Linked DNA regions of Homo sapiens. The protein of the gene in region 6 purifies or fractionates together with the protein of the main gene of each other region. This does not show direct contact. Each region holds a gene or a part of one and is shown on either strand. Other genes may lie near its edges.

Region 1 (4,353 bases), on a different chromosome or scaffold from region 6:
CGGTGGTGGGCACCTGTAATCCCAGCTGCTTGGGAGGCTGAGACATGAGAACAGCTTGAACCCGGGAGGCAGAGGTTGCAGTGAGCCGAGATCATGCCATTGCACTCCAGCCTGGGCAACAGAATGAGACTCCACCTCAAAAAAAAATAAGTAAATAAATAATAACAACAATAATAATAATCAAAGCAGGAATTACTGACTGAATGACCCCAACCCCACCAGATGGTGACAAGCACAATACTCTTGGACAGCTGGGAATTGGTGGATTTGGGATTTGAATCCTCTGTCTAACCCTGGCCCTGCCCTGTGGGATTCTCTGCCACGGCAAAGAAGGGGGTTGTGGGTGATGGCAGGTGTCTTTGGTGGGTTAACAGCATCGTCATCAGACAGTGAGGAGGACCCAGAAGCCTTGGAGAAGCAGAAGAAAGTGCGGCCCATGTACCTGAAGGACTACGAGAGGAAGGTTATCTTGGAGAAGGCAGGGTATGGAGAAGGCCTACATCCCCACCCCCTGGTTCCCAGCCCTGTCAGGTCTATGGGGGTCTTAGGGGCAGGAGAGGGAAAAAAGCTGGCAGCCTGGGCCGGGCATGGTGGCTCATGCCCATAATCCCAGCACTTTGGTAGGCTGAGGCAATAGGATCGCTTGAGGACAGAAGTTTGAGACCAGGCTGGGCAACATACCCCGCCTCTACAAAAAAATTAAAAATTAGCTGGGCATGATGATGTGTACCTGTAGTCCCAGCTACTCAGGAGGCTGAGGCAGGAGGATTGAGCCAGGAGATGGAGGCTGCAGTGAGCTATGATCAGGCCACTGCACTCCAGCCTGGGCAACAGAATAAGACCCTGTCTCAAAAAGAAAAAAGGCCGGGCATGGTGGCTCATGCCTGTAATACCAGCACCTTGGGAGGCTGAGGCGGGCAGATCACCTGAGGTCAAGAGTTTGAGACCACCCTGGCCAACATGGTGAAACCCCGTCTCTACTAAAAATACAAAAATTAGCCAGATGTGGTGGTGGGCGCCTGTAGTCCCAGCTACGTGGGGAGGCTGAGGCAGGAGAATCGCTTGAATCTGGGAGGTGGAGGTTGCAGTTTTCCGAGATCATGCCACTGCCCTCCAGCCTGAGGGATAGAGCGAGACCCTGGCTCCAAAAAAGAAATGCTGTCACCCATGATTGGAAAAGAAAAAAAAAAAAAAAACGCTGGAAACTCACCAGAATCGCAGATAGCCCTGAGAGCAGGAGTCTCAGTGATTCCATAGCCCTCCGATGACCCCCGCCAGCTGTTGCTTGGAATAGCTGCTCCGCATGGGCATGGGGACAGGCGGGCCCTGGAAGATATATTCTGAAGACCCCACTTTTCCTTTACAGCAAATATGTTGATGAGGAGAACTCAGACGGGGAGACTTCCAATCACAGACTCCAGGTGGGTGGGGTGAAGGCTGGGTCGGGGGGCTGAGGGGCCTGGGGCTGGCCTGAGACCTATGGCCCTCTCTGCAGGAGACATCGTCGCAAAGTTATGTGGAGGAACAGAAACAGCTCAAGGAAAGGTGAGGCTGGGTGGGCGGGAATGGCCCAATGGAGGAAAGTTGAGGCTCGGGGGTTGGATAGGCACGGGTTCAAATTGAGCTCTGTCACTTTCTATGTGCTTCAGTTTCCTCATCAGTTAAACGGGGTTAATAACATCACAGCACTGCTCTGAGCTTGTTGAGAGGAGAGCTCAGGGCTTAGTAAATGGGGTTAATCTTGGGGCAGCCAGCCAGGTGAGGTGGCTCATGCCTGTAATCTCAGGGCTTTGGTGGGCAGAGGAGGGAGGATCACTTGAGCCCAGGAGTTCAAGATCAGCCTGGGCAACATAGTGAGACCCCAGCTCTACAAAATAAAATAAATACTGGGGCAGCAGACAGGGGCCAGCCTGCCTGTCCTGAGGCTTGTTTTCTCTCGTGGGCAGCTTCCGGGCATTTGTGGAGGACAGTGAGGACGAGGACGGCGCTGGGGAGGGCGGCTCCAGTTTGCTGCAGAAACGTGCCAAAACCAGGCAGGAGAAGGTGGGTACTGGGGCCTGACTGGACTGCTGGGGGACAGGGTGGCGGGTGGCTGGGCATCTGCGGATGCTCAGTGCTAGCTTTCCCCCAGGCCCAGGAGGAGGCCGACTACATCGAGTGGCTGAAGGGACAGAAAGAGATTCGGAACCCAGATTCCCTGAAGGAACTGGTGAGTTCTCACGCATGGTCGCTGATGGAGTAGACCGCGTGTTCCGCGTCCATCCAACCTATTTACAGAAAGTAACCCTCTGAAGATGGGATATGTACATCTCTGGGCCTCAGCTCCTACATCTCTTTAAATGGGGATAGGCTGGGTGCCGTGGTTCACACCTGTAATCCCAGTGCTTTGGGTGGTCAAGGCAGGAGGATTGCTTGAGGCCAGGAGTTTGAGACTGGCCTGGGCAACATAGCAAAATGGCTCTACAAAAAAATGAAAAAATTAGCCAGGCATGGTGGCATGCACCTGTAGTCTCAAATACTTGGGAGGCTAAGGTGGGAGGATCTTGTGAGCCCGGGAGGTTGGGTCTGCAGTGAGCTATGATCACACGACTGTACTGTCACCTGGATGGCAGAGTAAGACCCTGTCTCGAAATAAAAATAAGAAACCAAAATGGGGCTAATGTCACCTACTCCAGAGGCTGGCTGTGAGGTCCATGTGGTGAGCATGCCTGCCCTCCTTCCCTGTCCTCCATTGACCAGAGTCCTGTCTCCTGTCACCCCCAGACGCATCTCAAGGAATACTGGAACGACCCTGAGTTGGATGAAGGGGAGCGGTTCCTGCGGGATTACATCCTCAACAAACGCTATGAGGAGGAGGAAGAGGAGGAGGAAGATGAAGAGGAAATGGAGGAAGAGGAGGGGTGAGCCACTGCATCTCCCCAGGACCTAGATTTTGGGTGCGCTTCATGAAGTATTCCCAGGCGGCACTGGCCAGGAGGCAGAGGGCACCATGTGTGTATTTTTTTCACAGATGGTGGCAGAGTTAGTCTTCTGTAAGGCAGAGCCACAGAGTATAGGCTCTGGAGCCAGGTGGCACTGCCTCAAATCCTGGTTCGGCTTCAAGACTTTCATGCCTCAGTTTCCCCATCTGTAAAATGAGGACAATAGCAGCGTGCACCTTGTAGGGTTCTTGTGAGGATTAAATGAGTTCATACGCTTCGTACCCAGGCGTGCAGGAAAGGGGGGCTCGACCTCACTTGGCTGGCCCCCTGGCATCACCACATCTTGCCCCTCAGGGTCCACGGTCCCCCAGTCCAGCTGGCTGTGGACGACTCCTCAGACGAAGGGGAGCTGTTTCTGAAGAAACAGGAGGACTTTGAACAGAAGTACAATTTCCGTTTCGAGGAGCCGGACTCAGCATCGGTGTGTGGCTGGGGCTGGGGAGGACTCAGCCCCCAGGGTTCAGGCCCAGGGAACCCCACATCATCTCTGCGGCCCTTGTGGGCTTTTCTGATTGCGCCTAGGTCAAGACCTACCCACGCAGCATCGCGTCCTCCGTGCGCCGTAAGGATGAGCGCAGAAAGGAGAAGAGGGAAGAGACTCGGGAGCGAAAGAAGAGGGTGAGTGTGGGGGGTGAGCTGGGGAGGACCCCCCAGCCCTGGAGGAAAGCCCATGCCCTCCCCCTCTCTGCCTGGGCCTGCAGGAGAAAGCAAAGAAGCAGGAAGAGCTCAAGCAGCTGAAGAACCTGAAGAGGAAGGAGATTCTGGCCAAGCTGGAGAAGCTGCGGAAAGTAACAGGCAACGAGATGCTGGGCCTCGAGGAGGGGGACCTTGAAGACGACTTCGACCCTGCCCAGCACGACCAGCTCATGCAGGTGCGGCCCTCATCCCGGCCCAACATGACGCTGAGTTCACACAAACATGGCTCTCACTGGCCACGGTGGCTCACGCCTGTAATCCCAGCACTTTGGGAGGCTAAGGCAGGCAGATCACCTGAGGTCAGGAGTTCGAGATCAGCCTGGCCAACATGGTAAAACCTCATCTCTACTAAAAATACAAAAATTAGCCAGGTGTGGTGGTGTATGCTTGTAATCTCAGCTACTTGAGAGGCTGAGGCAGGAGAATTGCTTGAACCCGGGAGGCAGAGGTTGCAGTAAGCCGAGATCATGCCACTGCATTCCAGCCTGGGCGACAGAGGGAGCCTCTGTTTTAAAAAAAAAAAAAGACCTGGCCGGGTGCAGTGGCTCACACCTGTAATCCCAGCACTTTGGGAGGCCGAGGCAGGCGGATCACGAGGTCAGGAGATTGAGACCATCCTGGCCAACATGGAGAATCCCCATCTCTACTAAAGATACAAAAAATTAGCCAGGGTGTA
Region 2 (4,353 bases), on a different chromosome or scaffold from region 6:
TTTTTTTTTTATATTGTTCTGCCCTCTGTGAACAAATCAATGTACATTTAAAAAAACAAAGCCTAACCCAATTTCTGTATACTTTAGGTTAATTTTTATTGGGAATAAACCAAAATTAAGATTTTTTTTCCTCCTGTTATTTAAACAACATGGTATGTACTTTATTAACTCCTGGGGAAAAAATTTCAAAGAAAAGTGGCACCCAAGGTGTATATATGTGTGTGTCTAGGTGTGTGTGCACGTTCATGCTGTGACTTAAAGTCTGTTCCTAACCGAAATGTACAAAAACTTTTCATGGACAGACCATGGATTTTAAGTTCCTGAGGATAGGGGCCATATATTGTTCACTTTCATTTTCAGCTCTTAGCACAGAAGTTTGCTGAACTACATTTTAAAAGAAGATTTTTCACTGTTAATGGTATCCATAGCTGCCATGACAACAAAAGGATACGTTAACAGCATTTCAATTCTGTGCATGGTTTACAAAATCTATACATTTTATAGCTGTAAATACTCTAGAATAATTATCCAGTCCAGTTGCCTCAATTTATCAATGAAAAAAAGAGATCAGGCCAAGCGTAGTGGCTCACACCTGTAATCCCAGTGCTTTGGGAGGCCAAGGCACTTGAGCCCAGGAGTTCAGAGACTAGCCTGGACAACCTAGCAAGATCCCATTTCTTAAAAAAAGAGATCGCTTCAAGTGAAGGACTTGTTCAGGGTCATATACAGCTTGTTGAGCAGAACAGCTGCAAATTCAACCCACAAGCCCAGTCCGGGGTGCTTTCCTTGACACTTCACACAATTAGCAACTCCTACACTTTGACTTATACAACGCCAACAAAGGAAAAGGATTTATAGCCTTTCTTGCCTGTCTGGCGTAGGCTTTGTCTTGAAATAAAACTGAGCTAGGCAACAATATGCATATAAATTATCACCAATTCCTCAGTCTTTCATACTTACGCATACAAGATTTTAAAAAGACATTAATATTGCAATTATTCTATGAATGAGCCACTATACTGCTTCATGGCATTAATAAACTCTAAATACAATTGGCCTTTCATGTCTGTGGGTCCTGCATCCCCATATCCAATCAAACACAAACCAAAAATATTTAAGAGAAAAAAGCAACTAATAAAAAACTAACGATACAACAATAAAAAAATACAAATAAAAAATACAGTATAACAACTATTTACATAGTATTTACACTGTATTAGGTATTATAAGTAACCTAGAGATGACTAAAACTATATGGAAGGATGCATATAGGTTATATGTAAATACTATGCCATTTTATATAAGGAACTTGAGCATCTAAGGATTTTTTTTATCTGCTGGGGAAGGGAGGGTTGAGGGGTGATGGGTGGGCCTGGAACAAATACCCCATGGATACCAAGGGAAGACTATAGAAAACACTAATTAAAAAGTCAGAAATATTTTTAGAAAAAGTTTACAGAGGTACCTGAATGTTTTCTGAGGACTCTTGCTAATTCTTCAATAGTTCTGACACAGTCCAATCCCTACAACAAAGAAGGCATAAAGAACTTAACCAAAACTGGAAGACAGGTTCTGAAACTGGCTATAGTTTCCATTACCTTCAGAAATAATGTAATTAATTTCAAGTCAGTCTATATCTATTTTTTTCCTTTCTAGTTGGGTATTAGAGTCAGTATTCACAGGAAATATCCTGACGGTACAAAAACCACTAAATACCCTACTTCCTAATTGTTTTTGGGTGTGCAACAAAGGCTAAAATCAGTCAGGAAGCTTATGGACCTAGGGCTTCCAAAAAAGTCTCTGAACCATGGTTGAGGACCTTCATTTCTTCCCCTCCACATAATATCACTCGGATGTACCCCATGTCCCAGAATAAATGAGAGGAGGCTTCTGTGCCCCAGCTCATTCATTCTAAGCAGACCTTCTATAGTTTAAGAGTTGATGAATTGCTGTGGAGAGTGATTAAGCTCAAATTATTTCCCTATAGGACTAGCCAGAATTATAATGCATATAACTAAAGTCATACAGCAAATATAAATAGTATTTGATAAATCATTCTTAAAAACATTTGGGCTGACTCAACATACGCCTTTTTGATGGTTATAAAAATCCCAGAACATACGTGGAATGTTACTTTAGAAATGCCCTCAAAACTAGTTTATAAGCCATGTAAAAAAATAAATAAATAAATAAACCTTGAGGATGTATGATAGGGTCATTCCATATGTTGAGCCAATCTTGCTTATATACTTTATTCAAATTCAGGCTAGATCACTTTTGACTATTTTCCCAAATCAGATACATCCTCAAAATAGAAAGACTTGAAACTAAGAAAAGGTACAAAAAGGTCTTCAGCAACAGCAGCATCATTCATTTGGATATTTAGCATTTGGACTGCTGTTAAGGATTTAAAAGAATAGGGACTCAGCACTTCCTAGACTTTATACCTTTATATAGTGTTTTATATTTTATAAATGCCTTCAGATATCCCAGGGGCTGGCAAGTTTGTTTTGCTTTGCACGCCATATGGTCTCTTACAACTACTAAACTCTGTACTTAAGAGTGAAGGCAGCCATAGACATTACATATGTGAATGGGTGTGATTCTGTCCCAATAAAACTTTATTTACAAAAACAGGCAGTGGGGGGCTGAATTGCCCAAGGGCCATCGTTTGCTAACTCCTGACCCACATGATCCATGATAATGTGTACAAAAATCAGCGGAGGCAGGAGGAACAGATATTATACTTTATCGATTATTTACCAAAGACCACATGTTTAGGTACTGATGAAACAAGTTTGTCTCAAATCCAGGCCTCTGGACTCTAAGGTTAGTACTCTTATGATTTACCACACTGCCTGTCTGGTAACAAACTTTACAGGTAACCTTATGTGAGTGTGTGATCCAAGTCAGCATAGTAGCCAAGCCAATGGGACACTGAAGAGGCTGGTTTGGCTATGTAGAATTCCCAGGCAACACTTTCCAATCCACTTTTTGCTACAGAGTGAAAGTATAACCTTTCTGCTCCTCACATTCCTCACAACCTTTCCAAGCCTCTTAATGTATTTGGCCAGAGACTGTGCCAAACAGCACACTCTATATGGTATGCCCTGATAAATTTGGAAAATACCAAGCTGTAATGCCAGTCTAGATTGGTTAAATCACACTGCCACAGCAAATGGAAGTTTTATGTGGTCACTGTACCTCAGCAGTTTCAAGTCCATTAATTGTCATACAGACGTCAAGGTCACTCTGTTTGAACCCAAATCCATTTTTGGAGGAGCCAAACAGGCTCAATTTAGTTCCTGTTAGGGATATATGAAAAGTAATAACTAATTACCTGAGTACATTTAATTTTTGATCAAAATGGCCCTCTCATGAATCAAAAACACCCAGTTGTTTAATTATCCTATATTAATCTCATACTTATGTTCTCTGATTAACTGGTCATTTATGCTAAAGTCTTTTTCTCTCAAAGCTTCCTTTACATACAAGCTGTATATGGCAAGAAAGATTACCAGGTGCTCCTTTATTCTTAAATGCAAAGACATTTCAAGGAAAATGTTAGATCACCTCAACACATTTAATAATGTAAGCTTAACTTTGACTCTAAACATAGTATTAAATGAAATTCACTTATGGCACTTGCTAGAATAAACCCTACACTGTTTCTGTTGGTAAATGAGGATTTGGCAGACCAAGGACCATCCTGGGTATATTGCAAAACAATGGAAATCCTGATTCTCAAAATCAGTGTGCTTGTAACACATGAACTGATTTGGAAAAAAGGTTACACTACTTTTCTTAAAAATAAAAAATAAATCATTTACCTGGAAAGTCCTGTCTTATGAAACTTTCTAGGTTTTGCCGAATATGTTCACGAGCCTGATCTTCTATAATTGTTGGAGAAAAATCCTCTGTTTAAAAATAAATAGACATATTGACAAAATAAGCCGGTTGACACTCTTAGAAAAAGCTGAAAAAAATTTATTTTTTAGAAAATAAAACTTACAAGCTTAAATTTAAAAATTCCTAAATCATTGTGTCTTCTCAGTAGATAGCATTAACAAGGTAAAGTTTGTTTTTTATTTATTTTTGAGATAAGGTCTGGTTCTGTCGGCCAGGCTGCAGTGCAGTAGTGTGATCTTAGCTTACTGCAACCTCTGCCTCCCAGGCTCAAGCCATCTTCCCACCTCAGCCTCCCGAGTAGCTGGGACTATAGGCATGTACCACCATGCCTGGCTAATTTTTGTAACAGTAATGTAAAATTTAAGATGTCCTTTTTTAAAGAATCTAAGAAGTGCTCTTGAAACGGAAAGTAATTTAAACATGGGATCTCCACCTGGGTTTCCT
Region 3 (4,353 bases), on a different chromosome or scaffold from region 6:
AGTTCCTCCTGCCTCAGCCTCGCCAGTAGCTGTGAGCACAGGTGTGTAGCACCATATCTGGCTAATTTTTAAGTTTTTTGTAGAGGTGGGATTGTGCTGCTTTGTCTAGGCTGGTCTCTAACCCCTGGCCATCCGCCTCAGCCTCCCAAAGTGCTGGGATTACAGGTCACAGCCCAGCCACCGCATCTGCTCCTCTGAAGGGGGCCAGCCCCTCCACACCTGTGGGCGTTTCTCGTCAGGTGGGACGAGAGACTGAGAAAAGAAATAAGACACAGAGACAAAGTATAGAGAAAGAACAGTGGTCCCCTGGGACCGGTGCTCAGCATACGCTCAGCATCCCGCATACGGAGGACCTGCGCATACGGAGGACCTGCGCTGCGCAGGCACTGGTCTCTTGAGTTCCCTCAGTATTTATTGATCACTATCTCTACCATCTCGGAGAGGGGGATGTGGCAGGACGATAGGGTAATGGGGAGAGGGTCAGCAGGAAAATATGTGAGCAAAGGTCTCTGTGTCATAAATAAGTTTAAGGAAGGGTGCTGTGCTTTGATGTGCACCTACACAACATCTCGTGCATCAAAGAGCAGTATTGTCTCCAGCAGGTCCCACCTCCAGCCCTGAGGCGGTTTTCGCCTATCTCAGTAAATAGAACACACAATCTGGTTTTACACCCAAGACATTCCATTCCCAGGGACGAGCAGGAGACAGATGCCTTCCTCTTATCTCAACTGCAAAGAGGCCTTCCTCTTTCACTAACCCTCCTCAGCACAGACCCTTTATGGGCGTCGGGCTGGGGGACAGGCTGGGAGACAGTCAGGTCTTTCCCTTCCCACGAGGCCATATCTCAGGCTATCACATGGGGAGAAACCTTGGACAATACCTGGCTTTCCTGGGCAGAGGTCCCTGCGGCCTTCCGCAGTGTATTGTGTCCCTGGGTACTCGAGATTGGAGAATGGCGATGACTTTTATCAAGCCTACTGCCTTCAAGCACTTTTTTAACAAAGCACACCCTGCACAGCCCTAAATCCATTAAACCTTGAGTCAACACAGCTCATGTCTCTGCAAGCACAGGGTTGGGGCTAGGGTTACAGTTTAACAGCATCTCAAGGCAGAAGAATTTCTCTTAGTACAGAACAAAATGGAGTTTCTTGTGTCTACTTCTTTCTACATAGACACAGTAACAGTCTGATCTCTCTTTCTTTTTCCTACAGTCCTTTTTTTTTGGAGACAGAGTCTCGCTCTGTCGCCCAGGCTGGAGTGCAGTGGTGCGACCTCGGCTCACTGGAACCTCCGCCTCCTGGGCTCGAGCAGTTCTCATACCTCAGCCTCCCGAGTAGCTGGGACTACAGGCGCACATGCCACCATGCCTGGCTCATTTTGTTTGTATTTTTAGTAGAGACAGCATTTCACCATGTTGGCCAGGCTGGTCTCTTGACCTCAAGTGGTCCACCCGCCTTGGCCTCCCAAAGTGCTAGAATTACAGGCGTGAGCCACCGCACCCAGCCCATTACATCTATTTTAAAAAACTATTATTTTTGGCCAGGTGCGGTGGCTCACACCTGTAATCCCACCATTTTGGGAGCCCAAAGTGGGCGGATCACGAGGTCAAGAGATTGAGACCATCCTGGCCAACATGGTGAAACCCTGTCTCTACTAAAAATACAAAATTTAGCTGGGCGTGGTGGCACGTACCTGTAGTCCCAGCTACTCAGGAGGCTGAGGCAAGGGAATCACTTGAACCCAGGAAGTGGAGGGAGGTCGTAGTGAGCCGAGATCACGCCACTGCACTCTAGCCTGGCGACAGAGTAAGACTCCATCTCAAAAAAAAAGAAAAAAAACTAATATTTTTATTGTTTTTATTTATTTTATTTTATTTATTTATTTTTTTGAGACGGGAGTTTTGGCTCTGTCACCCTGGCTGGAGTGCAGTGGTGCGACCTCGGCTCAATGCAACCTCCACCTCCCAGGTTCAAGCAATTCTCCTGCCTCAGCCTCCCGAGTAGCTGGGATTAAAGGCGCCCACCACCATGCCTGGCTAATTTTTTTGTGTTTTTTGTAGAAGACGGGGTTTCGCCATGTTGGCCAGGCTGGTCTCGAACTCCTGACCTCAGGTGATCTGCCCACCTCAGCCTTCCAAAGTGCTGGGATTATAGGCGTGAGCCACGGCACCCAGCCTTGTTACTGTTTTTGGTGACTCACCTGCAGTGTGTCTCCCTTCTTGAGTGTAAGCTCAGTAAGGATAGGCTGTGCCCGCTCTGCTAACCCCAGGGCTGCTGCTGGGCAGGTAGTGAGTTGTCAGTGCACCTCTGTGGAGTGCAGCAATACACGCAGAGCTTACATCATCCTCAAAGTAGGGACTGCCCTCTTTGCTTTTCAGATAAGGAAACTGAGGCACAGAGAGATGAAGGGACATGTCCAAGGCCACCCCACTTGAATGCACCGGGGCTGGGATTTGAGCCCCAGATGGCCTGACTCTAGCAGGGTTCTTTCTGCCGCTGAGCTGCCTATCGCCTGCCTTTGTCCAGATGGCCCTTCTCTGGCCAATAGCGAGTGCTAGGCTTCACCACGGATTGTCAACCCTGAGCACATGCCTTAGTCCCCTGGAGGCTCAGTAAGCTGAGTGTCACTCAGCTCCGGGGCTTGTGACTTACCAGATCAGGTGGCCCTGAGAATGTGCATTGTGCCACTGGTTCGGGGCCACCCCTAGAGCACTGCAGTGCATCCTCCCACTTGCCACAGGCATGCCTGGTTTCAAGGTGATGGTGTCATCCCCATTTTCGCGAGGAAGTGCTAACTTGCCCGGGAGCCCTCAGGTAGTAAGCACTACAGGCCCTTTCCCCTTGACGGGGTGGCCTGAAGGTGGGGACATCAGGAAGACCTTGCTGCCAGGACCCCAGGCCTGGAGTGGGCTGACAAGTGCCCAGGGCAGGGTAGCTCCTGTTTGGTACATCTGGGTGTGTGGGCTCAGTTTTCAGAGTCCCTTCAATGTGTCTGAGTTTGGAGAGCTGGGCTCTGATGTGTCCATGGCTCTGCCTTAGAGCCTGGCCTGGTGGATGCAGTGACGGGGTCCTCTCCAGCCTCAGCCTCCTCTGGGGCAGCTGCTCACCTGTGCGTCCAGCTGATCCCGGGCCACCACTGAGCTTCTTCCATCTCCACAGATGAAAAAGCGGGACCTGGAGCCCTCGGACGCCACCTACACGGCCCTGTTCAACGTCTGTGCCGAGTCCCCCTGGAAGGACTCAGCTCTACAGAGCGCCCTGAAGCTCCGGCAGCAGCTGCAGGCCAAAAACTTCGAGCTCAACTTGAAAACATACCACGCGCTGCTGAAGATGGCTGCCAAGTGCGCAGACCTTAGGATGTGCCTCGATGTGTTCAAGGTGGGGCTTCCCCTGCCGTCCTGCTCCCCTTCATGGGGCTGGTCCCACGTGTCAGGGGCAGGGCTGTGGTGTCTGTCTCTCCTCATGTAGGAAGGCTTAGGGAGGATGAGACAGCCGGTATTGGGCCCTGGGGTTCACAGATGGATCTGATGAGACCTTACTGGAGATTGTGTATGCCACCGTGTGCTGTGTCCTGCTTTGTGCACTCGAGGGAAGGCTTCCTAGAGACAGGGTCTTGCTATGTTGCCCAGGCTGGTCACAAAACTCCTGGCCTCAAGTGATCATCCTGCCTTGGCCTCCCAATGTGCCAGGATTACAGACATGAGCTACCATGCCCAGCCTGCTGCAGGTTCTCAGTGGGACGTCTTTGTTCCCTCCCCCAGGAAATCATCCACAAAGGGCACGTGGTCACAGAGGAGACCTTCAGTTTCCTGCTCATGGGCTGCATCCAAGACAAGAAGACAGGCTTCCGGTACGCCCTCCAGGTATGTCCCTCCCACCCCACCTTCCTGCCCTGCTTCCCCGGTGCCAGAGGTGCAAAATGGTGATCCTGTGAGCACCCACGATGGCCCTGTGCTGAGTATTTTTATATCTGTGCTCTTTTCTGAAAACCCAGCAGCCACTGTAGCCTCCATTCTACAGATGGCAGGGAGAGGAGGCCCTTGGAGATGGAATGAGGGTGGCCCCCGCCCCTCCCACCCTGCTTTGCAGTCGGCTTAGCCCCTCTAAACTCACCTTCCTTGAAAGCCTGCCACACACTCACCTGGGGACTTGTTCAACCCTCCCACACCCCCATTAGCACTTCTGCAGGTGCAACCCAGGAGTCATTCATTCATTCATTCATTCATTTATTTTGAGATGGAGTCTCACTCTTGCCCAGGCTGGAGTGAGCGATCTTGGCTCACTGCAACCTCCGCCTCCCAGGTTCACGCGATACTCCTGCCTCAGCCTCCCGAGTAGTTGAGATTACAGGCGC
Region 4 (4,353 bases), on a different chromosome or scaffold from region 6:
TTTGGAGGTAATTGTAGAGTGCTGGGGAGAGGAGGACCATAAACTTTGATTAGAAAATAGTTTTATTTTTATTTTCACTAACCTCTATTAAAAATAACATTTCCTTTCATTATGAATGAAGACAACACTCCACCATCATATTAGCAATAAACGTGACTCTGACTTAGCAGTATCATCTTTGTAAATATCAGATATTTTCATACCACATTCCACTTGCTGCAGAGAACTCAAAATATAGTTTGTGTTCATCACTGCATTGAAACTAATAGCCCCCGGTAGATCTTAATAGAGAAGCACATATTACTTTATCACAAATCTTGTTTTAAACATTTTGATAACTATTTCAATTTAATTGGTTTCCTTTATAATCCTATGTATTTTATGCATTTAACAACAAACTATGTTGAGAAAGAGCCCATAGGCCTCACCAGACTGCCAAAGGGTACGATTACACAAAAAAGTTTAGAACTTTTTCCAAAAGCAGAGTTCCAAAAAAAATTAGTGCAATGGCAGGTTCATTGAGATAAATGTGCCCCCTCTCCCCATTACTACTATGAGGATATTTATGGGGATATAAAATGCTTGGATATTATTTCACTTTCTAGTCTGTGACCTTGGTCAATTACTTATACTCTGTGACTCAGCCTCTAGCTATATAATGGGTATAAATAGACAACAGTAACTTCCTCATAGGGTTTTTGTGAAGATTATTTCATTCAAGGTTGTTTAGAACAAAGACAAGCACATGGTAGTGCTCACTAATTAGCAGCTATTATTCATATCACATCTTGTATGTGAAAACAATTTGTACTTTAGAAATTCCCCCATACCATTATTTATTATTTTTTTGGAAGGCACCAGCCAAATGGCTCCTATCCAGTGAAAATTATGGAGGGCTGACCAACTGAGAATATTGAATGTGGGTCACCATAGCTTTTCTAAGATGGACAGTTTTTTAAATGGCAGTAATCATATAGGCCAGAGGGTAGGTAAAGAGAGGGAGCACAGCCCTGGAGTTAAATCCAGGTTTCCTCTGACTCTGAAGTGTATAAATTGTGATTAAAGGTATCTCTTACATCTTTTGTCTCATCTGTAAAACAAGAATAACTTCCTCTCAGAGCTGTCACAATTAAATGGGATGCAGATTAAAACAGGTGCATAGACACAGGTACATAGAATGAACTATGCAAATATTAGCAGCCTTCCATTTCTGCCTTCCTGTCTTCACTTCTATTACCAACTCTCTGGACCTTTGTACTTCACTCCACTATTCTTCTGGATTTAGTTAAGGATTCATAGTAAATTGCAATTTTAAAAAACCGAAAAACTTCTAATGGACATCCTTCTTCTGCTTTACAGAGGGAATTACCCAACTTGGCCATATAAGAGAGGAGCCACCTGCAGTGCCTGCCCCAATAATGACAAGTGTTTGGACAATCTCTGTGGTGAGTAAAAGGAACAATACACCAATAGAATAACATAATAGTAACATGTAACTTTCTACAGAATTAACAATGAAACCATGTTTTATCTTAACGGCTATCTTCAAGGAAACTGGCATCAAGTAGCAATTAAACCAATGGCTTACTGTTCTAGGAATACATTTAAGAGAAATTTAAATGTGAAAATCACGTTCTTTTTATTTAGTTCTAATTGGTCAAACAACAACAACAAAAAAAACTGTCAGAAACTGTAGACTAAGATTCCTAAGATTTGCTTATTTCAGCAAGATCAAAAATAAGTATAACAGGTCATCCAAACAAACAGAATTCTGTTTTCGTTTTTTTTTTTGTTTTTTTTTTTTGAGACAGAGTCTTGCTCTGTCACCCATGCTAGAGTGCAGTGGTGTGATCTCAGCTCACTGCAACCTCCATCTCACGGGTTCAGGCGATCCTCCTGCCTCAGCCTCCCAAGTAGCTGAGATTACCATGCCACCATGCCCAGCCTGGCCAACATGGCAAAAACCCCCTCTACTAAAAATACAAAAACTAGCTGGGTGTGGTGGTGGACGCCCGTAACCCCAGCTACTCAGGAGGCTGAGGCAGGACAATCACTTGAGCCCAGGAGGTGGAGGTTGCAGTGAGCAGAGATTGTACCACTGCACTCCAGCCTGGGTGACACAGTGAGGGTCTATCTCCAAAAAATGAAAATAAAATAAAGCTGCAACATGGCACTTTTTATTAGCCAGACAGCATTTAATGAAGAAGTGTAGAAGCTGCAAGCAGTTAAATTTCCAAGGATGTTTTACTAAACATCCAAGCAAAATTCTGCTTTGTGATTTTGAAATATTAGTAAGTGACCAAGAGTTTATTTCTTGTTCTTGTTCTAGACACAAACCCTTCCATCCCAGTATGTTTTTTTACCATGGTGTGAAGGGGAAACTTCAATTAAGCTGTGCAAAGCCTGTGGTACTTTCGTGTCCATATTTGTAACAAACTGAACTCAGAGCAGCCGGGCTAGAGTAGGGTGCTTAGAATAGAGGAAGGACAGAGTCGGCCAAGTTCCACTGCACGAAATTTAGTTTGGAAAAAAGTGTTCCATTGCTCATGTTTTATAAGGTCCCTTGCAGGCCTAAAATTATAAAATTCTATATATTAAACTGCTTGCTCTCCTCCTTCCCATTTAATGTTGAATACTTATCTTTACATACAGTCGTACTTTTGCAAAGTTTTCTGAGCCATTTTTCTCCCAGTCCAATCATTCTTTATTTCACTTATATCACTCTTGTGAAGAAAAGTAACATGTAGCCACAATGCAGATAATATCAAGGTATCAATGTATTCACTGAATTCTTCCTTTCACTCACTCTTCACTTCAGAACGTATATATTTCTTCCTTCCAAATTAACCAGTATACATAAGGGCTAAAACTATGGATTTCAGAACCAGTATGCCAAGTTTTGGTGCAATTTCCAGTTTGACCACTGTGACTTTGGGCAAGTTTCTGCTTCTATTTTTTTCAACGAAACAACCCAGTGAAAAAAATGTTTCCCTTTAAAAATCTAGGCAATTAGTAACACTACCACCACCACAATGACAAAAATACTTCTGGTTTTAGCTTTTGATCTTTGGTGATCTAACTTGAGATGCTCTTTAATCTTGGGGAATAACATTTAGAAGATTAAAGCTGTAGTCCAATAATGAAAACCCTTGGACTCTTGAGAAAACACATGCTAACTTGTATTTATAAGATGTGAAACTCATTACCCATTTACTTCAGATAAGTGCTCAACATCTTACAGATTGATCTTGTCACTAATTTCCTATTCTCAGAGCTAGATTTATGTAATTTGTTTTCATGTAAGTTTAGGCTTACTTGAAAGTATTCTACTCTTCGCACTAATACTGAATAAGTAAGATTTGTGACTAAAAAACTTAAGAATCACCATTTGACCTTTTATAAGGTCTGATGAAGGTAAAGGTTAGAGGATAAAAGCTTTTATTTAACAGATTCCTTCTCAGACAAATTATGGCAAGCACTGGAGCATAAATTCCTTCGTGGTATTCCTTCGTGGTCTCCTAGATACTGCTGGTAGTTCAATAAATACCCTTGGAGGCCAAATCAGGACTGTTTTACAAAATGTGCTGGGCATATTAGTGGTACATAAGATGATTTTAGCTAGTTCACAGATGTACATTTGTTTCAATAGTTGAATATTGAACATTTAAAAATATATATAAAAAAAAATAACTAGAACATCACACTCTTGATTTCATCGACATAACTGCCAAGAAAAGTGAGGGTAGCATATTTACAGTAATTCACCACAAAGCCCACTCACAGGTATGAAGACCAGGGATGCTCACCAGTACCCAGAGGACCAGATGATTGATGGGTTCTACCACGAGCATCTAATAGCGACTGCTGCAGAACTGGTGTGGAAAAGGTTTCTATTTTATAAAAGAAAGTATCCAGAAGGCTAAAGGCAGTTGTGGAATTTATTTCTTCCCAGTGCTCTGATTGTCAAAATTTGAATAAAGCTCAGTGAAAGGAGGACAGTAATTAATGACTTGATAGCCAAACATCGTAATGATGATTTAGTGATATACTAGACTGGATGAAAGAGAGGTCACTGTCTTTTCACTATGGATTCATCATAAACAGTATCATTCTTCTCAGGAAGAAACTTATTTTTAGAACTATATTTTAATAAATTTCTCACATTCTAATATTTAATTTTTATTTTTTAAATTTTATTACCTGCTAGGTATGATGTGTAAAATGATTTTCCATTTATAGTAATGGTATAGTTTCCTTTTTATAAAAGGTTTATAAAGTTTATGTAAAAAGTCAACTTAAAAATACCAAGTTAATTCAGTCAGTTCAAAAAGTTTTGAATAATTAAACTTGGAA
Region 5 (4,353 bases), on a different chromosome or scaffold from region 6:
CAGTTCAGTAGTAAAGTATATTTACACGGTTATAAAACAGATCTCCAAAACTGTTTCATCTTGCAAATCTGAAACTCTGTACACATAAATTTCCCTTAGCCTCCTCCCTTTAGCCCTTGATACTCTTTCTTGTTTTACCATGTGAACTGGTTGCCTATTCAAATAACTGAATTTTTAAAAATAAGGAAATAGGTACATATACACACTTGTGGCCGGGTGCGGTGACTCACGGGTTGGGTGTTGGGTATTATACCCAACACTTTGGGAGGCCGAGACGGGTGGATCACTTGAGGTCAGGAGTTTGAGACCAGCCTGGCCAACATGGTGAAACCCTGTTTCTAATAAAAATACAAAATTAGCTGGACATGGTGGGATATGCCTGTAATCCCAGTTACTCAGAAGGCTGAGGGCAGGAGAATTGTTTGAATCTGGGAGGCAGAGGTTGCAGTGAGCTGAGATGGCAACACTGTACTCCACCCTGGGTGACAGAGCAAGACTGTCTCAAATATATGTTAATTGCAGAAAAAGTAGCAAAAACATGCGGTTAAAAGAAAAAATAGGCGGGGTACAATGGCTCACACCTGTAATCCTAGAGGCAGATGGATTGCTTGAGTGCCCAGGAGTTTGAGACCAGCCTGGGCAACATGGTGAAACCCTGTCTCTACAAAAAATACAAAAATTAGCTGGGCATTGTGGCTTAAGCCTATAGTCCCAGCTACTTGGGAGACTGAAGTGGAAGGACTGCTTGAGCCAGGGAGGTCGAGGCTGCAGTGACCTGCGATTGTGCCACTGTACTCCAGCCTGGATGACAGAGTGAGACCCTGTATCAAAAAGGAAAAAAAAAAAGAAAGAAAGAAAAAGAAAAGAAAAAAACCACCCATGATCCTACTAACCATAGGTAATCACTGTAACATTTTGACACATATAATCTTTTTACTTTTTTCTGACACAGTCTCGCTCTTCACCCAGGCTGAAGTGAGGTGGTGTGATCATGCCTCACTGCAGCTCGACCTTCTGGGCTCAAGGGATCCTCCCACCTCCTTAGCCTCCCAAGTAGCTGGGACTACAAGCATGTGCCACAACATACAGCTAATTTTTGTATTTTTTTGGTAGAGATAAGGTTTCACCATGTCACCCAGGCTGGTCTCAGGATTACACACGTGTGAGCCACCACACCTGGACATCTTTTTACTTTTTTATATGCCACATATATTTGTAACTCCAACCCCAAATGGGATTCTGTCATATAAATTGGCTTGTTTATTTATTTTTGAGACAGAGTCATGTTCTTGTTGCCCAGGATGGAGTGCAGTGGCACAATCTCTGCTCACTGCAACCTCCACCTCCCAGGTTCAAGCAATTCTCCTGCCTCAGCCTCCCGAGCACCTGTGATTACAGGCACATGCCACCACACCCGGCTAATTTTTGTATTTTTAGCAGAGACGGGGTTTCACCATGTTGGACAGGCTGGTCTCGAACGCCTGACCTCAGGTGATATGCCCGTCTCAGCCTCCCAAAATGCTGGGATTACAGGCATGAGGCACTGCGCCTGGCCAATTGGTTTCTAATCTGTCTTTTCATTAAACAATCCATTATACATACCCTTCCATGTTCATGTTAAATAGACTTTTGAGACTTTGAAGCCAATGTGAATTTTTGGATATTGCTCTTCAAACTGGCTAAAAACCTTGGAGTCATCTTTGACTCTTCCTTTTCTTACATCCTCCATCTAATCCACTAGGAAATTCTGTTGGCCGTATCTTCCACATATACCCAGAATCTGACCACTTTTCCTTCACCCCACTGCTACCATGCTGGTCAGACCCATTGGAAAGGCTTTTCCTGCATCTAATCTTATTCCCCAGTTCAGTCTATTCTCAAAACAGCAGCGGAAAGGAAATGCATTTCTTTTTCTTTTTTGAGACCGAGTTTCGCTCTTGTTGCCCAGGCTGGAGTCCAATGGCGCAATCCCGGCTCATGGCAACCTCCACCTCCCGGGTTCAAACGATTCTCCTGCCTCAGCCTCCTGAGTAGCTGGGATTACAGGCATACACCACCATACCTGGCTAATTTTTGTGTATTTTTAATAGAGATGGGGTTTCTCCACATTAGTCAGGCTGGTCTCAACTCCTGACCTCAGGTGATCCGCCCACCTCGGTCTCCCAAAGTGGTGGGATTACAGGTGTGAGCCACCACGCCCGGCCTAGGAAATGCATTTCTTATCTGTTCAAAACCCTCTATGGGCCATTTCATTTAAAGTAAAAGGAAAATTCCTTAAGATGGCAAACAAGTTCCCACTAGACCTGGCCCAATTATCTCTCTGACCTTATATCCTACTCACTCTCTCATGCACTCTGCTCCTGCCACATTGGCCCCTTGTTGAGACAGGAACTAGGTAGAGATTAGGGTGGAGAGAGCAGTCTTGCCAAGTACAGGGTAAGAGCCTATCTTTAAAATTTTGTCCATTATGGATTTTTTGCATTAATTTTGATTTTTGAACTGGTACATTCAAATATTATTTATTTTGATTATTGAGTTTTTAAGGCACTGTCAAATTTTGAACCTAAAGCAAGTAAACTGCTCACTTCATGCTAGTTCTGGCCTTGCTGGGCACCCTTCACTTCTACAATAGCTGTTACTTCTGCTTGGTCTATTCTTCCTGCAGTATTCATTGCTTCACCTCAAGTCTTTGTTCAAATTGCACCTTCTTAATAACATCTACCCAGACCACTCTAGTTTAACTGCAACGTCCTCCTCTCTGCTACTATTCCCTATAGCTCCATCTGATTTCTTTCTTTTCCCATAGGATGTATCACTTTTTTTTTTTTTTCGAGACAGGGTCTCGCTCTGTCACCCAAGCTGGAGCGCAGTGGCACGATTACAGTTCACTGCAGCCTTGACCTCCCAGGTTCAAGTGATCCTCCCACCTCAGCCTCCTAGGTAGTTGGGACTAAACACATGTGCCACCAAGCCTGGCTAATATATGTATACATATTTTTTGTAGAACAGGATTTCACCATGTTGCCCAGGCTGGTCTCGAACTCCTGTACTCAAGCAATCTACCCTCCTTGGCCCCCCAAAGTGCTGGGATTACAGGTGCATCTGGTCAATGTATCACTTTTTAACATACTTGAAGTTATATTTATTGTTTATAGACTGTCTTCCTTTCCCCCAACCACAACATAAGCTCCCTCCTCTAGAACAGTGCCTGGCACGTAGAAAGCACTGAATTCAAGGAAATAATGTATCCAAAGAAAGTAAATTTGGAGGCCGGGCGTGGTGCCTCACGCCTGTAATCCCAGCACTTTGGGAGGCCGAGGCCGGCAGATCACCTGAGGTCAGGAGTTTGAGACCAGCCTGCTCAACATGGAGAAACCCTGTCTCTATTAAAAATACAAAATTAGCCGGGGTGGTGGCGCATGCCTGTAATCCCAGCTACTTGGGAGGCTGAGGCAGGAGAATCGCTTGAACCCGGGAGGCAGAGGTTGTGGTGAGCCAAGATTGCGCCATTGGACTCCAGCCTGGGCAACAAGAGCAAAACTACATCTCAAAACAAACAAACAAACAAACAAACGAAAAGAAAAAAAACAAAAAAAAAAAGAAAGTAAATTTGGGGGCTGGACATAGTGGCTCACACCTGTAATCCCAGTACTTTGGGAGACCGAGGTGGGCAGATTCCTTGAGCTCACAAGTTCAAAACCAGCCTGGGCAACATGGTAAAACTCCATCTCTACTAAAAACACAAAAAATTAGCCAAGCGCGGTGGCACGCACCTGCAATCCCAGCTACTCAGAAGGCTGAGGTGGGGGATGGCTTGAGCCTGGGAGGTGGAGGATACAGTGAGCTGAGATCGCGCCACTGTACTCCAGCCTGGGCAAGAGAGCCAGACTGTGTCTCAAAAAATAAAATAAAATAAGAAAGTAAATTTGAACTTGCATCTTCCCAATATTCAGTAAATCTGCATTAGCTCACTGGAATATAAAGTTTTATCACTACAGTACTAAAATATTGATGAAATCTGTAACTCTGTGTTCAACTGAATGAAAATTGAAGTACTTTAACAATGACACAAATAGGGATGGCAGTGCATTCATGATTATTATAATTTCTTTTGTTGCTAACTTCTGTTTTGACTTCTGTAATTTATGTTCACAGGCTGTTTCCTTAGCCAATGCTATTAATCCTAACTGGGTTTTTTTTCTCCCCATGTCCAAAGCACAATATTGATCTACTCCCTTGTGATGTTATTACAGTATTCAGACTTATCAGTAACAAAAAACAAGGAAGTCATTCAAACCTTCATCCTCACCCTGTGGTGAAAGCTGAATTCAATGAGATATGCCAAACCCTTCT
Region 6 (3,216 bases):
TAAACTAAATACATGATTATTTTAAGGAAATGTTTGGAGACTTTGCTAACTAAAACGAGATGCTTCATTATTCACAAGTGTTTGTCAGAAACATGCAGTTGTGAATTGCTATTTATAATACAGATAAAAAGGTTCTGTACCAGAGAATTATCAGCCACCTGTAAGGCTGGAACAGCATACATACAGGTGTGCTATGTATCAACTATGAGGTAGCCTTTTGCTGTAAACAGAGTAATATTTTACCTATGTAAATGAACAATGTGTTCACATCAGTGATATTCACATATGCACAGAGTTGAGGGAATCTGCTTTAGAGGAGTTTTCACATGAAATAAAAATAGGATAACTGATATCTGATATTCAAAAATTTTGATCTGTGTCAAACTCAGAGGTAGTTACTATCATCAGTACATAATACTTATATAAAGGTATAAGTTATTTGGTTTGTTTTGAGTAAGCAGGACTGTAGACTAGTCTGTAAAGAAACAACAAAAATATTACATGGTATGTTCCCTGAGCAAAGTTCTTTGTCCTGAGTATGTTATGTAATAGTGATAATATTCTCATATAAAAAATAAACCCCAACTTTCAACCATAAGATAGGTTTGGTATGTGCTCTTAGTTTAGTCTGGTAAGATGATGAAAAGGATTTCAAATTGCACCCATAAAGACCATAGTTCTCAAGTGTTTCTATTTTTTTTTACCATGATTTTAGCTCTGAATTTCTTTTTGTAAACAGGAAGTGTCCAATTTTGAAGTCCATAATTTCCTATTTCCATAAGGTGAAGGAACTTTGGTTTGAATTTTCAAAGTGACTTATCTATCATGTTTTGCATTTTTACTGTTAACCTGCTTATTATACCTGCTAAAAATTGAGCAACGCTTATCATGTTTTGCATTTTACTGTTAACTTGCTTATTATGCCTGCTAAAAATTAAGCAATGCCACTTTGATTTGTCTACATAATTTAAATAAGTTTGAAATCCTCACATAAGGCAAGGAAGTACTTCTCTACAGCTATATCACATTCAATATCGTCAAAGGTAAGCTTTGCATCACAGCACACCGATATTTCAGTGTATACCACGCAGATTCTCACAATCACTGTTGTGAAATTCAAGCTGAGTTGTAAAGGACTGGCAACCCAACCTGAGGCATTTTCGTCTTATGGTGGTTTGCTGAAACAGCAGCAACTATACACGTCTCCCATGACAGGACAGGCGGGAGAGGAAGTAGAAACTGTTCAGCAGAATATGTCTCATTTGAGTCATGCTATTTTTATTTAATTATCTGAGCTTACACCAACAGGCCCATACATTATAATTATAATGCTTAATCTTATTCCCAATATTAAGCACTATAATTAACTGGTACCTTCTTGCAGATGTTTCAGAAATTTGCCCATAACATCTAGAGCCAGGATGACCCCAAAATAATTTTTTTTTCCATGACCGAAACCTAACAGGACCAATACTATGGCCCCTAGCCAGTTTATCACTCTAACGAGAACCAACCTGAGAAGATTCTCCCTGGCACTGAATGTTCATCCTGTATCCACCATATAGGTTACTTCAGAATAAGCATTGAAGGTCACTTCCATAAGATCAAAGTTACTGTATAAAATACTTCTAGCTCTCTGGTGGGAGAGGTTTGGTACCTCTGCCCCAGGCTTGTCACTCTTGTTAACTGCCACTAAATGCTGCACTTTTTCGTATCATTTGCAGGTCATATATATTGGGCAACTGTGAACATCCACTTAATTTTAATTCTCAACCCCAGTATTTAATTCATTTCTTTGCTGCTTGTTTGTTTTAGAAACAAATTAGATAACTCTCCAGGAGGAATAAAAACCACCACCAAAAATATATGCCAAACAATTGGAGTTCTCTAAGGTCTTCAGTAGTAAATAAGGAGGGCTCCCTGCTCTAAGCAATGGGTAGAAGATTGAGTTAGCCAAGGGAAGCTGCTGTTGCCACACAATCCCTTACAACCCTCACAACATGGAAAAGGTTACAAGAAGCTGATATTAAAATACTACTGAAAACAAGCCACTAAGATGATCCTCCCCTTCATTTCTCTTAATAGGCATCTAATTTTACAATTAAACACAGAATTTAAAACAGTGAAATATCGGCCCAAATTACACATTCATTGTCTTTTCTGGAGTTATGTTATCCCAGAATCAAAAAAGCTTATGGCAGTCAGAGGCATATGAAGTTAAGGTACTGCCTTCAAAAAAGGGGGAAAAAAATTACTACTCCAGAGATTTCAAGAAAAAGAGGCAATCCCAAATTCGGGAGAACTGGATGTCTTAAAAACCTTTAGTACCCCATAATTGGCAGCTCTGAGATCTGAAGTATCCTTTGGTTCACACAAAAGGTAACAGTCGTGTTTTTAGTTTTATATAATATAAAAGAAGTGGTATTTCAAGAAAACTCCAGTGGGTTAAATTTAAAACTATCTATAATGCTTCACATGGGTTTTCAATTCTTGGAAATATCCAATTATATGAGAGAGGGTGTGTGCTTTGATCTATACACAAATATATAAAGACAAAGCCTCTTTATATATGTGTCTACATTCCTATATAAAAATCCTCATGTACACACACAGACTCAGGCTCTCTCCCTCTCACACATGCACATATTGACAGACATAGTATCTTATTCTCTGAATTAACATAAAACATGACACCCTGCTCAAATGTAATTTGCTTAGAGTGATTTGTCTGTTTAAAAAATTCACAGTTCCCCAATAGTAGTTAAAATCCCAGGTCAGCTACTGCTTGTGAAATACTGTTCCCCTATACTTGCATGAGGTAGACTTTGCAACCGGGTAAAGGAAAGAACATATGAAGAAGACCTGTTATGTCTTTTTCCTTTTTTGAACTGAAGGCCCCTTTTTGCTTTGCTCTTCTGGTGCTATAGATGACTTCGTGGAGGAAGCTTCTTGAGGTGACCTGCCTGACCGTTCTGAGATCTCTGCCCTAGCCTCCTGAGGAAACGGTGGTGATGTACAGCCATGCCCGCCTCCCACTTCTCGAGGGAGAGTTGAAGTGCATGGCTGGGATTCTGCTTCCTGTCTTCCCTGAGAACTCGCGGGTGGCTGTGCAACATTTTTATGTGGGCAGTTTGCCACCATGTGCATGATGCTCTGACAGTAATGGCACTTCTTTGGCTGAGGAGGTAGACTACATTCCTTAGCATGATGATCAAG
Region 7 (4,353 bases), on a different chromosome or scaffold from region 6:
ATGCTGAATATCATCCACATTTAAAGATTTGACAACATAAAAGTTAGATAACTCTTAATGATGTGAATCTTTAACTTATGATTTTGAGTAAAGGATTATCTAGAATCAAATATACACTTATTAATCTTCATTTCCCAAAATTGGTCCATATTTAGACAACTACCTGGCACAATTTCACTAGATAAACCTAAAATCTGAACAATGGAAGTTAAACTTCTACCCAAAGTAAAAACAAAGCCATAAGATTCCACAATTGAATTGGCCACAAACATTCACACTATGTTATAAAGGACTTTCTCATTTCAAATACATCACTGAATGTTCAACAGAATTTGCAAACATAAGATCCAGAATGACTAGCAAAACATGCTAAGAGCATGTCAAAAAGTAAAACACCACCTCTCCCCCCCCAATCTGGAAACACACTCAGGCATTCCAAAAATAAACCAGATCTGAAAAGAGGCCTCTCACTTGGTTTTAAGTATGAGGTGTGTACAAAGCTATGGGAAAGGGAATATAAAATGAAATAACCAAATAACTTACAAAAAATAATTTTAGCCAAAAACACATCTCTCTGTTCCATTGATAAAACTATCAATTTTTAAATTTTTTTGCAATTCTGAACACTGTGTTGCATAATATCACCAAGACAAAAAATATGTTCACAGGTACACTTTTTGTTATTTTCTTTCTAGAGCACATCTTTGAGGTCATAAGACCGCATCTGGTTAAAATAAAGTCTCTTGCCCTTGCTTCCCTTCCCCCTCAAAGTGATTCAACCCTGAATTCCAAAAAGGAATATTCAATATAACAACTTGAAAACCAGTTGTAACACTTAGACCATAAGGAAACTATATGAACATTATGGAAAACTACATGAAAGAGGGAGCTGCCACTTGCCACCCACTTCACTTCCAGCTTTTTAAGCATGTACCCAGCTAGACTCCTATCTCACTGACTTCAGTGAAACAAACTAACACACCAAATCTAGGCCATCTCAGGCTGGAAGTTAAAACTCGAAGACATCATTTCATATACACATACATATATATTCCCTATCCTAAGCTTTAACTTTGTCTATTTAAACAGTTTAATAAAGCTCACATTTACAAAGGATTTTATTGGCAAATAAAGGCCCATATTAAAAATTTTATCAGAACAAATTTTTGTTTTATACAGCTAACATTAAGAAATATTTTCTTGGCCTTATAAAATATTTTTAATTGCATATAATTTTTGCTTTGGGTGGAATATTGAAAACACAATTCTGCAAGAAATTAGAAAAGACTAGAAACAAAAGTGAAAGTGACTAGCCTTAACTTTCAAAAAATCAAGTGCAAAGATAAATAGTGCAAATAATGAAAACTAGAAATTTTACAGGCAACTTTAGTCTTTCCTGCTTTTGCACTTTTACACATTGACAACTTTATAAACCCTAACAACTATATGCAGCATGGAAATGGGCTATCATTTATCTCCACTGACTAGACTTAAGCCTTTCAAGGACTTGTCTCACAGTCATTTAAATCACAAGTTCTTGACACAGGTTTGGGAATTCACTTCTTTTTAAACAAATTTCTAAGGGAGGGGCTATTTAAGAAGGCTTTGCATTGACTTAAATGAGTTATAGTATATAACTATTATAATTTAAAATCTGACACAATAAAATGTGAAAATTATACTAAAGTGCCAACTCTACAAAATAAGCTATAGTAAAAATAATCCTGCTATTGTTAATGAACCTGACATTCGTAAAAAAGAAAAATTACCTTCAAAGTACAAAATCAGAACCACTTTTTTGCTATTTTTAAAAGAGATTTTTATCACTAATATATAGAGATGTGAGTAAAATGAAACTTCAAAGTAATCTGTCCAAATCACCAGGAATAAATCCATACTAAATTTGACAACAAAGAGTTAATCCAAACATACTTGAATTATGTAACTTAAAAACAAACATTACAGTAATTATTTATCTTAAATAATTTAAAACACTACTGGAATAATGGGAACAGAAATCTAAACACTATCAGCTTACCCTACAAAGGATATAAGAACCTCCAAAATGTACTAACTTATTTTATTAACATTTGCCACCACTGAACTCTTGGGAATACTACAATTTTAAAGTAAGAGAGAAAGTAGGGAAACAGAAACATGAGTTTGGGGGGTATGTTGTCTAATTTTAGAAATACAGTATTATTGAGGGCCTCATAAGGTCTACAAGGTTAAATGGTTGCTACGGATGCAAATGTAAAAGAAATAAAAAAGACACCTAAAATTGCAAGTTAGTGTTTTTACCTGGTTTATTGTCTTCTAAGAAATTTGTGTGGGCCAAAGTCTCAAAATTCTATAAAAGCAAGGAATAATATGTGTCTTTGTGGAGTACAAAATCAAATAATTTGATCTAAGGACCATTTGAAAAGTAAAGGTAAACTACATTGTAACAAGAGCCCAAGAAAATAGATAGTATGTGTGATAAATATTTCTGATAGTTTAAAAAGAATAATGGTGAAAAGCTTGAAATTTTCTTTTCCTCAAAATAATAACTCCCCAGCATCCACTTGCCTTGACCAGAAAAGCTGTCATTCCACAATTGTGCTAATTTGTCCCAGAAAAGCAGACATCCTATACATGAAAACAGACTTGTATAATGCATGATCATTATCATAACTCTAGCTATAGTAACTAACAGCTTTCTCATAATCAATGAGGGACCCATTTTCTCTGGCTTTATTGAAACTTCCTTAGTGAAGATCAACTTCATTTCCTTAGCAAATAACTCTCATTCGGACTCCATCATAGTACCTTTTCCTACCTCTAGTAAAAATTCCTCTCACTTTATTTCCAAACCATTCTCTATATACCTCTCAAACCCCCATCCACAAACACATTAAACAGCTCTCCTCGTCCTACTCTCCAATTTCCAAACCAGTAAGTCTCAGTTCCCAGTAACTTACCTAAAATACACATACTTCTTACTCTCTTCAGTTCACAAGTTTCTTAACATTAATTTAGATACCTTCAAACTGCCAGCTTAAGACTATGGGGAAAATAGCAATCAGAAAAAAACTGCCCAGTTACCTCATAATACTGAAATTGTTCTGGATCATCAGTTAGCTATGTTCTAAGGCAGGAGTCAGAAATTTCTTTACTTCTCTCTGAAGAAGTAAGCTTGAGTGCCACTGGTAGGCCTACAGCAAGAGTAAAAGTGGAGAGAGAAACAAAGAAAAAGGATAGGAGAGAGAAGATGCCAGATGTACATGGTAAGGAGGTAGGTCAAGTACCACCACCAACTACCTGCATTTAAAATTGCCAATCCACTCCAGCTGAATGGGAGTTTGACCCAAACTCAACATGTGTCTGATAAGTCATTAGCTGATGGCTATCATTGTTTGAGCTAGTCAAGATGAATAGGTAATTCACCTGTCCCATAACTTTAACTGCCACTTCACGATAAGGACATATTTTCTTAAATCCTCCTAGGATCCTTCTGTGTTAATAATCTACCTTAGACCAAAACACACACTAACAAGAGTATTTCCATGTTTTTCACAATTCTAAAATAGAAGGACTTGGTCCTTGAACTTGGAGGCCTCTTGAATTATTAAAGTGGAACCAAAATCAAGAAAATTAAACTCTTTAGCTTAAACATTTTTCCATCTAATGCTACAAAATAAGCTAATTGCTAATAATTATCAAAACAATGTGTGTATTTATGAAAACATGAAAATCCTGTGATTCCAAAATGAGTGAAATACTTCTGATGTGTAAGAAGCAACTATATTTTACATAGAGGATCACCACCATGTTTCTGCCTATCAACAGGACAATCTTCCACAAAAGCAAAGGACATCAGGAAGGAAAAACACAAAACAAAACAAATACCAAACGTGGGGACAAAATAAAAATGAATGAGTAGTTATGACATTCTTGTTAAGAAAAATGTTAACAAGTGACCTTTGCCACACTCAGCTTTCCTAAAGACATAAATTGCCTGGACCATTCAACATCAAAACTTGGTAGTTAGCTTAGCAGATTCATTGGCTTGAAACCAATCATTATTTCTTATTTCATCTGGTTGTTCTTTTATCATGAAATTCTACCTGACTCATGCTAATTCTGGCTTATTTTCACTTAGCCTGTAATGAAATTTCTGTTCAAAAAGGACGTGTCAAATGGCCTATACCTTAAATTTAGGTTTTCAGGATCAAATAACTTCTTAAATATTAATATTAAAATCAGCTTTTCTTAATATATCACAAAATCTGCAAAGAAGATTCTATAATAATTCGTGAATAGCAGTGATCACTTTAGTTTTATAGCATACTTATGAATGGCCAAAATTTGGTT

The links.
Region 1: the proteins of LIN28B (region 6) and KRI1 purify together in Homo sapiens (co-immunoprecipitation; 2 studies listed by BioGRID and IntAct, with this or other methods). This does not show direct contact.
Region 2: the proteins of LIN28B (region 6) and TUT7 purify together in Homo sapiens (co-immunoprecipitation; 2 studies listed by BioGRID and IntAct, with this or other methods). This does not show direct contact.
Region 3: the proteins of LIN28B (region 6) and PTCD1 purify together in Homo sapiens (affinity purification with mass spectrometry; 2 studies listed by BioGRID and IntAct, with this or other methods). This does not show direct contact.
Region 4: the proteins of LIN28B (region 6) and KRR1 purify together in Homo sapiens (affinity purification with mass spectrometry; 2 studies listed by BioGRID and IntAct, with this or other methods). This does not show direct contact.
Region 5: the proteins of LIN28B (region 6) and PHAX purify together in Homo sapiens (affinity purification with mass spectrometry; 2 studies listed by BioGRID and IntAct, with this or other methods). This does not show direct contact.
Region 7: the proteins of LIN28B (region 6) and PURA purify together in Homo sapiens (affinity purification with mass spectrometry; 2 studies listed by BioGRID and IntAct, with this or other methods). This does not show direct contact.

What each region holds. Positions count from the first base shown.
Region 1 is NC_000019.10:10,558,859-10,563,211, reverse strand, and holds part of KRI1 (protein KRI1 homolog), read left to right. Parts: intron 1-374; coding exon 375-483; intron 484-1,366; coding exon 1,367-1,421; intron 1,422-1,495; coding exon 1,496-1,545; intron 1,546-1,946; coding exon 1,947-2,043; intron 2,044-2,131; coding exon 2,132-2,209; intron 2,210-2,763; coding exon 2,764-2,900; intron 2,901-3,275; coding exon 3,276-3,402; intron 3,403-3,503; coding exon 3,504-3,599; intron 3,600-3,682; coding exon 3,683-3,853; intron 3,854-4,353.
Region 2 is NC_000009.12:86,315,754-86,320,106, forward strand, and holds part of TUT7 (terminal uridylyltransferase 7), read right to left. Parts: intron 3,918-4,353; coding exon 3,831-3,917; intron 3,306-3,830; coding exon 3,205-3,305; intron 1,524-3,204; coding exon 1,466-1,523; intron 1-1,465. UniProt on the Homo sapiens protein: Uridylyltransferase that mediates the terminal uridylation of mRNAs with short (less than 25 nucleotides) poly(A) tails, hence facilitating global mRNA decay. Essential for both oocyte maturation and fertility.
Region 3 is NC_000007.14:99,428,612-99,432,964, reverse strand, and holds part of PTCD1 (pentatricopeptide repeat-containing protein 1, mitochondrial), read left to right. Parts: intron 1-3,158; coding exon 3,159-3,377; intron 3,378-3,760; coding exon 3,761-3,862; intron 3,863-4,353. Other genes in the region: ATP5MF-PTCD1 (ATP5J2-PTCD1 fusion protein), read left to right, coding at 3,159-3,377, 3,761-3,862. UniProt on the Homo sapiens protein: Mitochondrial protein implicated in negative regulation of leucine tRNA levels, as well as negative regulation of mitochondria-encoded proteins and COX activity. Also affects the 3'-processing of mitochondrial tRNAs.
Region 4 is NC_000012.12:75,494,218-75,498,570, forward strand, and holds part of KRR1 (KRR1 small subunit processome component homolog), read right to left. Parts: 3' UTR 1,446-4,353; coding exon of another isoform or gene 1,360-1,445; 3' UTR 1-1,359. Other genes in the region: GLIPR1 (glioma pathogenesis-related protein 1 precursor), read left to right, coding at 1,360-1,445. UniProt on the Homo sapiens protein: Part of the small subunit (SSU) processome, first precursor of the small eukaryotic ribosomal subunit.
Region 5 is NC_000005.10:126,610,269-126,614,621, reverse strand, and holds part of PHAX (phosphorylated adapter RNA export protein), read right to left. Parts: intron 1-4,353. UniProt on the Homo sapiens protein: A phosphoprotein adapter involved in the XPO1-mediated U snRNA export from the nucleus.
Region 6 is NC_000006.12:105,078,433-105,081,648, reverse strand, and holds part of LIN28B (protein lin-28 homolog B), read right to left. Parts: coding exon 2,866-3,216; 3' UTR 1-2,865. UniProt on the Homo sapiens protein: Suppressor of microRNA (miRNA) biogenesis, including that of let-7 and possibly of miR107, miR-143 and miR-200c.
Region 7 is NC_000005.10:140,120,415-140,124,767, reverse strand, and holds part of PURA (transcriptional activator protein Pur-alpha), read right to left. Parts: 3' UTR 1-4,353. UniProt on the Homo sapiens protein: This is a probable transcription activator that specifically binds the purine-rich single strand of the PUR element located upstream of the MYC gene. May play a role in the initiation of DNA replication and in recombination.